Linked DNA regions of Homo sapiens: region 1 is linked to region 2. The links come from fine-mapping of genetic effects on gene expression. A gene starts in region 2. The other region holds a variant in brackets. All regions are shown on one strand. Distances are from middle to middle. Region 1 overlaps ATXN7 (ataxin 7). Region 2 holds the start of PSMD6 (proteasome 26S subunit, non-ATPase 6).

Evidence for each region. PIP is the estimated chance that this variant, and not a neighbour inherited with it, causes the effect.
Region 1: its variant is the best candidate, but not a certain one, in a credible set for the expression of PSMD6 in whole blood (INTERVAL, PIP 0.68).

Annotation. Positions count from the first base shown.
Region 1 is chr3:63,947,134-63,952,517 of GRCh38, reverse strand. ATXN7 (ataxin 7) reads right to left here. Exons shown (of 13, transcript NM_001377405.1): 5 at 35-139. Among named protein-coding and RNA genes, the nearest start is that of PSMD6-AS2, 54 kb to the left of the region's middle. The variant T/C (reference allele first, on the strand shown) is at 2,426.
Region 2 is chr3:64,020,610-64,025,993 of GRCh38, reverse strand. PSMD6 (proteasome 26S subunit, non-ATPase 6) reads left to right here and starts at 2,500. Exons shown (of 8, transcript NM_014814.3): 1 at 2,500-2,719; 2 at 3,471-3,676. The coding sequence starts at 2,575. LOC105377121 (a long non-coding RNA gene) reads right to left here and starts at 1,919. Exons shown (of 3, transcript XR_940906.3): 1 at 1,843-1,919; 2 at 1,252-1,369. RefSeq lists a silencer at 2,292-2,391 and enhancers at 1,954-2,575, 2,542-2,891, 2,576-3,198.

The sequences.
Region 1 (5,384 bases), 73 kb after region 2:
CTATTAACAATTTTTTAAATGGTTAAGCACTTACCATAATGTGATTGAAATGCCTGCGGTTTGACAACCTGATTACAGTCGTTACACACCACCAAGTAGAAATCATCATGGGCTGGACAGAAACCAAATATTGGCATGTCTGCAACACAGAAACAGAGCATCACTCACTCATCTGGTTCTGACTGATATAAAACCATTTTGGGAAACTACTTTCTAAAGGAGTTGCCTTATTGTAAAGTATACCAGGACAAATGAACTGATGTGGTACACCACCACTATTAAACAGAGAAATCAAATCAGGCTTACAGACACACTTTAAAAAGGGTTAAAGTGCACCAAAAATAATTATGATGTGGTGAAACAATCTTTTAAAATGCAAACAATGAATATATTTGCACAATAAAGCAACATTAGATGAACTCTACCAAGAGTTAAGGGAAAGAATCTGCAACCATGTAAACTGCTTAGTTCACAAAGCTGTACCATCTAATGCTTTTGTTTAACTGTGCATTCTATTCCAGCTCTCTGGTTCCTGAGTTCTATGGAACAATTAAGAAAGGGAGCAGAGACAGAGGAATAGAACTGCTGGTTTGCCAGCATGTCATATAAAGAAAATTATTTTAATATATTTTTTCCAAGTCATAGCAACCTCTAGTCCTTTTGCTTACATACTAATGCCACCAGAAAGGCAGAATGAACTTTAGTACAAACAGCATTTCATATATTAATCAGTTTGGTTACCAAAATAGGGTAGGATACGAGCTGTTTGTTTGTTTTAACAGTAAGACAGCAACTTAATTAAATGCAAAAGTAAAACTAAACTGTCTGCATATACATGAAAACTGAAAGTAACTTGATACCTGGTAAATATGGTTAACTAAAACATCTCAACCATTCAATTAATTATGAACAACAATTTGGGGAACAGAGCTAAAAGTTCAGATCCAGAATCTAACTTTTTAAGTATTTCAAAATCAGTGGATTTTAAACAGCATTTTACACTACATTCACTCTTTAGAATATCTGCAATGAATGGATAATTAGCACACTTCAATTTAAGCAAAAGTTTTAGTAGATCAAATACCAAGTTTAAAGGACAAGGGGGAAGATCCAAAAAGCTGATTAGCATCTACTTTCTTTCCTATGAAGATTTAATTTCACACTTTCTCCAGCCGGGGAGATCCTGGTGGTTTTAAAGGGAGAAGAAAATTCCTTAAGGAGATGTCAAGTGAGGATAATCTCTAAAATATCAAATTACTGATCTAGTATCTACACATGGCTATGGCTTGAATTTTCTTAAACAGTTTCTATTACACTGAATTGCACAGATAGCTAGCTATAATCCGAAATATACTAGAGTCTAGCACGATTTGGGGATGTACTTGCAGCACCGAGTAGTTTCTACAAGCTATTATTTCATTTTTATCCTCACAACTACCTAGGTAGACATCATTATATCCCCCCTCTAAAGAAGAGAAAACTGACTCACAGAGAGGTAAAGTACTTTGTCTAAGGTCAATAGCTGGAATTCAATTCTGACTTATAATGTGGCTTGGATTTCTTACCTCTTGAAGACCAGAGGAATAATGATATCTAGAGAGTCCTTCCAGATTCCAATGTCAATAAATTGGAATGTCAGGGCTGACCATCTTTGATGGTATAAACTGATTAGATAAGAAGCTTCCAGTAGACTACAGACTTCTGTGACTACGCTTATTTAATAAAAAATAAGAGCCAAACAATATGCTATTTTCCCTGAAAGCCTGCCCACATTGAGTTAAATATAGTACATGTGGGAGAAGGGGAAAGGTTATATCTATGCAATGATATACATGTAATAAGTCACTTTCCAAGATTACAGTTTCTTGACATGACATTTCATTCTGAAAAATAAAATTTAAAGTCATTTACCGTAAGTTCCATATGCTTCTGTGCTAAATGCCTCTGATACATCTAAATTACAGAACTGGTATAACATTCATAATTTACAACTGAAGAGTGTGAGATAGATATCAAATGAACAATTTCATTAATGAAATCAACTCAATTAGTTTTATTATTAGATAGCAGTTAAAACAGTATTAAATAAACAGTGTTAGTTTAGTTTTAGGTCTCTGCAATGTGCTGCTGGTGGTCTCTGTGATTTCCCTCAGTTCTGAATGTAAAGCACTGTTGCTTAAAATAGATCACTTTGCCAGATACCAGATTCTTCTGTGGACTAACCCTCTACCCCTTTAAAAATAAAGCAATTAAGAGAAATAAAAACCTAAACTGATCCTTTCAAATAATAAGGATTCAATTTGTCACATGATGTTTATCATGTACAAAATTATTCTTTTTTGCCCTGGTTCCTTTGATCCTTTTCTGAGACTTAGGACTAGTAAAACTAAAAAGATAGGGGTTATCCTGTAAGGAACCAAGAATC[T/C]ATACTTCTGTAAAAATTTCTATTTCCTCAATAACTTAAGATCAATTGCAACTGATGATGACTATAATGATAACCAGCTGACATTTACTGAGAGACTACTATGTGCCAGGTCCTATGCCAAGCAGTTCTTACATGGTTTTTCCCATTTATTTCTAATAATAACCCTACATAATAATCCCCATTTTACTTATGGAGAAACAAACTTATTTAATATCACTCAGCAAGAAAGCGGCATAACCAGGACTCTGGTTTGTGTGACCGGAAAACTCGGTTCTTAATTTCTCATGAGCACACTGAATCTCTCTAAAAAGCATGCACACACACACCCCCTCTGTGGGAAGAAACATGGTATACTTAAACCCAGTTCATTCTACCCTATGAAACTGAGCTCCCTGGGCCAGGCGCGGTGGCTCATGCCTGTAATTCCAGCACTTTGGGAGGCCGAGGAAGGCGGATTACCCGAGGTCAGGAGTTCGAGACCAGCATGGCCAACATAGTAAACCCTGTCTCTACTAAAAATACAAAAATTAGCTGGGTGTGGTGGCAGGTGCCTGTAACCACAGCTACTCAGGAGGCTGAGGCAGGAGAATCACTTGAACCTGGGAGGTGGAGGTTGCCATGAGCCAAGATTGCGCCACTGCACTCCAGCCTGGGTGAAAGAGTGAGACTCTGTCTCACAAAAAGAAAAAGAAATTGAGTTCATTTTATGAAAACGTAAAGCAACTTTAATTTTAGCTTTCTAAATTCTTCACTTTCAGATATCCATATTTGGAAGTAAACTAGAGGATACAAAATAATTTAAATAAAATGCTTCTTCAGGAAAAAAAAAAAAAAAAGGAATTCTATATTCTTTTTCTGCTCTGGGACATTCCAGGGGCCTTAGCAACAGGAACAGAGTGTGGAATGTTGTGGCAACAGAAAGAAATGAAATAATGTGTGTGTGAGAGACAGTATGTATGTTCCTAAATATTTTAAAGCATAAATTCACAATCAACCCGTCTGCAAATTAAAATAGGGATCTTGCTCAAATGCTGTGAAAAGCTTGATTTACAACAGAAAATAAAAATATAAAATTAATAAAAATGAATTCATTATTCAATTAAAAAGTTTACAAAATATACTTGTAATATACAACTTAGGCCATTAATTATGTACTTGAGCATAAAGTTTAAAAATTGTACTTGAATTAATGGATTCTAAACGAATTTGAAAGAATGGATTTTATTGTTGTGTAAGCCCTAAATCTTTCTCAGGATTTAGGTCACCCCTATGTTCCAATTAGTGAGTGGGCCAGCACCCACATCTAGGCCATCATGTACTTTGGAGACCCCAGGCCAGCATACTAGGGAGGATTAGGTTTAAGCACAAGGACACTTGAGCACATGTATATGGAAACTTCAGTCACATGCAGAATGAAGTCCCTCTGCTAGAAACCATACCCCAAACTGTGGTGAATGTATTTACTTTGGTGTTGCTATCTCCATTTTGAGGACTTTGTTCAGTAACAAGAAAACCTGAATGGCACTGCAAAGCATTTAACCTGCCCAGTACCCTGCGTGTCTCCCTTTTCCCACGCATCCCAAACTTCTACATGCCACTCACAAGTTTCTATCTCCAGCCCCGACTGCTCCCAAGCTCTGTCTAGTTTCACGTACCAGACTGCCTACTAGACATTACCATCTAGATGTCTTATATACATTTCAAACAGAACAAGCATGTCCAAAACTTCACTCTTGACCCTTCTCTGCTCCTCACCCAACAACCTTCCCCATTTTGGGTAAATGATACTATTCATCCCCCAACAGCTCAAACTAAAAGCCCAGGTGTCACCTCCAACTCTCTTGTCCCTCAACACATTCAGGCCACTAGCACACCCAGTTAAGTTCTATCCTAAAATCTTCATCCACTTCTCTCCACTGCCATGGCCACCACTATTGGGCCTGCCACCAGCACCCTTTCAATGAACTCTGGAAGAAGTCCCCTAAGTAGTCTACAAACCTTTCCACAAGGCTGCCAGAGTGATTCTTTAAAATTCCCCACCAGATCACATCACTCCCCTGTTTAAAATTCTCCAGTGGCTTTCTACTCCTCTTGGAATAGAACTCCAGCCCTTACCCTGGCTCCCAAGGTCCTGCCAGATATACCTGCACTTCCCTCTCATCCTCTGTTCCCTCGTTCCCCACTTCTCTCTCCTTGGCTCACTCTGCTCCAGGCACACTGACCTCCCTTCTCTCCTCAAACCCAGAAACCTTTTCCCCAGCCAGACTCTATGCTTGCACTTCACAAGATGCCTGGTGTATTCTCACACATCAGGTCTCAGCTCAGCTGTCACCACTTCAAAGGGCTGTTCCTTCCCCCTCCCCAGTTAGTTACTATCACTGGCATTTTAAGCAGAGTGGCTAAGAGTGTGGGTCAGTATCACTCTGAATCCTGGTTCCCTCAATCAAAAGAAACGTGACCTTGGGCAAGTTATACAATCTCTTCAAATTATCACTTTTTTTTCCAGACACAAGGTTTCTGTCGCCCAGGCTGGAGTGCAGTGGCACAATCACAGCTCACTGCAGCCTCAATCTCCCAGGCTCAAACGATCCTTCCACCTCAGCCTCCTGAGTAGCTAGGAGTAATCACAGGTGTGCACCACCACGCCCAGCTAATTTTGTTTTATTTTTTGTAGAGACAGGGGTCTCACTATGTTGCCCAGAATGGTCTCAAACTCCTGGGTCAAGTGATCCTCCCACCTTGGCCTCCCAAAGTGCTGAGATTACAAGTGTGAGCTACTGCGCCTGGCCAGCATTTTCTTCACATATTGAACCGTGATGACCATAGTACCTACTTCACTGGGTACTTCAAAGGACAGAAAGACTAAGAGAGCTACTACATGCCAGTCTTAGAAATGCACCTGGCCCTAGGAAGTGCTCACTCAATGTTTGCCCACAGTCTATGAGATAAAAGTCATGAT
Region 2 (5,384 bases):
GTTTCACCATGCTGGCCAGGCTGGTCTCAAATTCCTGACCTCGTGATCTGCCTGCCTCAGCCTCTTAAAATGCTGGGATTACAGGTGTGAGCCACCTCTCCTGGCCCTGCTATTCTATCTTTTATTATAGGTGCCTCAGCTATGAACCTCGCAATGGGTGAAGAAAGGATACTACTTTTTCTCCCCTGCAGGTTCTCTGTTCAATATTAGTGGCAATGTAAATTGATATATATATCATTTGTGGAAAATAATTCATAAAATACTTACAGAATACATCAAAATATAAAATATTAATGCCCTCTTATTCAGCAATTGCACGTCTAGAGATTTAGATTGAGAAATAACTATTTAAGTGTGAAAATATATATGTACACGGATAAGTGACACTGTAATATTAATAAGATTGAAAAAAACAAAAATAACCCAAATCAACCAGCACTTAAGGACTGATGAAGAAAAAGTTGGTATAGAAATATAATGGGCCGGGTGTGGTGGCTCACACCTGTAATCCCAGCATTTTGGGAGGCTGAGGTGGGCGGATCTCCTGAGGTCAGGAATTCGAGACCAGCCTGGCCAATATGGTGAAACCCCGTCTCTACTAAAAATACAAAAATTAGCCAGGCTTGGTGGCACGTGCCTGTAATCCTAGCTACTCAGGAGGCCAAGGCAGGAGAATCGCTTGAACCCGGGAGATGGAGGTTGCAGTGAGCCAAGATCACCCCACTGTACTCCAGCCTGAGATCCGTCTCAAACAGAGTGAGATCCGTCTCAAAAATAACAAACAAACAGAAATAAATATAATGGAATCCTATATGGTCAATCCATTGTCATCCAAGATATCCACAATACATGGTAGAATGAATAAAACACAGTTTAAAATGTGCGAGTATAGAATGATCATGTTAATATACCCAGATGAGTTTTAAAGAAGCTATGCTTCTCTGGAATGTAAGTTCCAAAGACAGGGCTTTGTGCTCTTCACTGCTGAGTCCTTGAGGCCTAAGACAGTGCCTGGTACTTTGTAACCATGCAATCATGTTTGTTGAATGACTAAATGAAAGAATTTTAGAAAGTTTTTTACCAAAAGTTTAGCAGTGGTGGAGAGCTATTTAATAGTATTTTTTTTTTACTCTTCATATTTTCTCTATCATTTGAGTTGTCTTCAAAATGCTTGTTTCATTTTTATAGAAACAAATAATAGATTTAAATTATGTGATGATGCCTACTGCCTGTGAGATGTGGCAGTCTCACCTGTTTCAGCAGCTGTGTAAACTGGTTCAGCTCTTTTGGAAAACCATTTAACATTAAATATCCCCAAGTCACAAAATCCTTCTTCCCTTTGTCCGTTATTCCTTCATGGGATTTTATGCTAAGGAAAAAGATGCAAAACATGAAGTGATCTAGACATCCAAAGTCTTCATCCAAGTTTTTATATTAGGTAAGTAAAAACTCTGGTCAACCTAAAGACACCTCTAACAGAGGGAAGAGTGAAAGTAAATTATGGTAAATCCATTAGATGGAATTTAGGCCAGGCATGGTGGCCCACACCTGTAATCCCAGCACTTTGGACGACTGAGGCGGGGGAATCACTTGAGGTCAGAAGGTCAAGACCAGCCTGGCCAACATGGTGAAACCCCGTCTCTACTAAAAATACAAAAATTAGCCCGGCATGGTGGTGCAGGCCTGTAATCCCAGCTACTTGGGAGGCTGAGGCAGGAGAATCGATTGAAGCTGGGAGGCAGAGGTTGCAGTGAGCCAAGATTGTGCCACTGCACTCCAGCCTGGGTGACAGGGCAAGACTCCGTTTCAAAAAAAAAAGGAATTTAATGTAAAGATTACCACCTCTGAAGATCTGTAGCAATGTGAACAAAAGGAAGCTGAAAATGCAGGCATGTAATGATTTAATTTATGTGTAAACAAAACGATGATGCTGTTGTACTATGACGTAGAATCCTGGGTGCAGTTTTTTTTTCTTCTTAAAACCGCAGAAAGAATGTGGATTTTAGAGTTCTAGATAGGGGTTTTCATTTAGGCCTTGCGACATGGCTGTTACATGACCTTGGTTGGTCTGTTTCCCTAACCTCTTTGTGCCTCATTTGTCTTACCTACTAAATAGGCTAATAGTACTACCTCGCAGCATGAAGATGATTTTAATAAGATGAATGAGAGTAACGACTCGACAAACTATGGTGATTGTTTTTATTAATGCTGTTATTACATTTTCAGTTTTCAAAAAATTTTAAGCTCCCATCAGTTACAAACGGAAAGTAAAATAGCTAAAAAGGGAGTGAGAAAGAGATTCAAGAAATTGGGCTTTTGAGTTGGGCTGCACCCACTCTGGGACTCCGCAGGGGGCCTTGAGGGTGGAAAAGCCCCCGTGACCACACAGGGGCGCAGGCGCCCAGGCCGGGTGAGGCGTTCCCGGAGGTGTCCAGCAGAGGACGCTGCCGGCGGAGACGGGACCGGAAGCCGGGCCGCAGGCGGCCGGGCGTATTCGCCGACTCCTCCCGCTTCCGCTGCCGCAGCCGGTCGTAACCAAGTTGTGTCCTGTCAGCCGCTGTCCCCTTCGCCGCGATGCCGCTGGAGAACCTGGAGGAGGAGGGTCTGCCCAAGAACCCCGACTTGCGTATCGCGCAGCTGCGCTTCCTGCTCAGCCTGCCCGAGCACCGCGGAGACGCTGCCGTGCGCGACGAGCTGATGGCGGCCGTCCGCGATAACAGTGAGGCCCGCACGAGCGCCGAGTCAGCGGCCTAGGCCTGGGCCGTCCCCGCGTTCCGGAGCCTGCGGGGACTTTTTTTGATGGAGCTCCAGACCCCTCTGACGGGGTCTCAGAGACCAGGCCTGGCTTCTCCGGCCCTTAGGGTTTTGCTTTGGTTTGGGGATACCCTGGGGGACCTCGACTTGCCTCAGCGGGGTCTGCATCTCTCTGTGCCGCCTTCCCCTGTAAGGGCAGCTTGGGGGAGAATCGTGAGGCATTAATATTTACCCCTGTGCTAGGCACAGAGTAAAGGCCCCGTGACTTTCTGTCAGTGGGGACTGCTCCCGGGCGCGGGGTATTCCTGTGGGAGAGTTCAGCTTGCCTGTGGAAGGGAAATTTGGGTTCGGTTCTTTCTGGCCCTTCTGTAGTGAATGTGTATGTTTGAACATATGTATGTGAGTATGTGTGTATAAAAAGTCTTTCCCTGTTTGAAGACTTTTGGAACAGAATCCGGCAAGAGCAAACCGAGGATTGCCCTCCCTCCAGCCCTAGTAGAGGTTGGCATTGCCAGGATTGGCCGTCACGCAAACCTCCCACCAGCATACGTTTATGTTTTGCCAAGCCGATTATTAAGCGCCATCGCATGCCTTCCTGTTAGTGGGGAAGAGACTGGTGGATGACTTGTGGCGGGGCGGGGGGTGAAATACGTGGGCAGACTTTGACTTGAGGGCACAAGTGTCCCCACTCACACATCCCTCTTTTTGCATGTTAGACATGGCTCCTTACTATGAAGCCTTGTGCAAATCCCTCGACTGGCAGATAGACGTGGACCTACTCAATAAAATGAAGAAGGCAAATGAAGATGAGTTGAAGCGTTTGGATGAGGAGCTGGAAGATGCAGAGAAGAATCTAGGAGAGAGCGAAATTCGCGATGCAATGATGGCAAAGGCCGAGTACCTCTGCCGGATAGGTGACAAAGTGAGTAGAGATGGTTTTCCCTCTCTGTAGTTAGTATAGGCTAAAATTGGAGACTATTCCAGGTAATCGTTTCTCATTAAAAAAATTAACTTCGTTTTAGAAAAAGTATAAAGGTAATCATGCTTGCTTGTACTGGTGAATCAATGTAAAGATGAAAAAGTCGTCTCCATGAAATGCCTTGTCATTTCCCCAAACAGCAGCTAGGGCTGTATTCTTCCCCATTTCACCCCATGCCGATAAAAACGTAAGTGTACATCTAGAGAATTTTATTTACTGCTTTTACAAAATTGGGATCATTTTCAGCAGTTTTCTCACTTGGTTGGGAAGCACTGGTTCTGGTGTCTTTAGTACTTTACACGAGTAATACTTAGCAGAAACTAAGAAACAGTATAGTAAATGCTGAAGTTCTGTTATCTTTCTTTACTCTGTACCTGCCCAGGGATAGGCTTTTCAGTTCTTTTATTGTGCATTTATGCAAACTTTTTGGTAATTTTTTTTTTTTTTTTGAGACGGAGTTTCACTCTTGCCACCCAGGCTGGAGTACAATGGAGTGATCTTGGCTCACTGCAACCTCCACCTGCTGGGTTCAATCGATTCTCCTCCCTCAGCCTCCCGAGTAGTTGAGATTACAGGCGTGCGCCACCACACCCAGCTAATTTTTTTGTATTATTAGTAGAGACTGGATTTCAACATGTTGGCCAGGCTAGTCTCGAACTCCTGACCTCAGGTGATCCACCTGTCTCGGCCTCCGAAAGTGCTGGGATTATAGGCGTGAGCCAGTGCACCCGGTCATAAAATCTTTTTTACGTAAAATTTTATATGTAAAAGAATATAAATGCTCAATGAAAGAACCAATTTTTAAAAAAGTTAATACTTGCAGAAATTTTTAATTCTACAGAATTTTTTTTTTAAGTACATAGGATCATAGTGTATTAGTGTAGTCCTGTTTGCCCTTTTCATTCAGCATTATATTTAAGAGGTCTTTTCCATGCCAACATACATAAATCTGGCTCATCCTGGTTAACTGCTGCCTAATGTTCCACTGTAGAGCTAGCTCTGGCATAGTTTATTTGCCTGTTCAGCTGTTGTTGGACATATGTGTTGTTTTCATCTGTTTTTGCTTTAGCAAACTGCTGCTGTAAAAATATGCTTATGTATGTCTCTGTGTGTATATGCTAGTGTTTCTCTAGGGTATAGTATATGAAACAAAATCGCCGGGACAATGAACAGTTTTTTTTTTTCTTCTTTTTTTTAAATATGTGTGGCCAGTTGTTCTGCATAGCAGCCAGCTTACTCCACCATCAGGGCACCAGAGGGGTACTCACCATTACTGGATCTTTGAAATTTAATTGAGTAACTGTGTAATAGTGGTTAAGAAAATGGGCTTTGAATGTTTTTAATTTTAAATTATTTGCCTGGAAGTATTTAGGTATAGAATGACATGGTGCCAATATAAAAAATAAAAATAACATGAGCTCTTGAATCAGATTGTCTGGGTTCTGTTTTCAACCTCGGTAATTATGATTTATGAAACCCTCGGTTTCCTCATGTGTAAAACAGGAGTACTGATAGTTTTTACTTAATGTGGATTAAGGATAGGAAAAAGCTTAGACTGGTACCTAGCACATAGTAAGTGCCTAAATGTTGTTTTGCAATGTATATCTAAAACGAGGTTTTTTTCTCTTTTCTGGTTGTAAACTTAAGACGT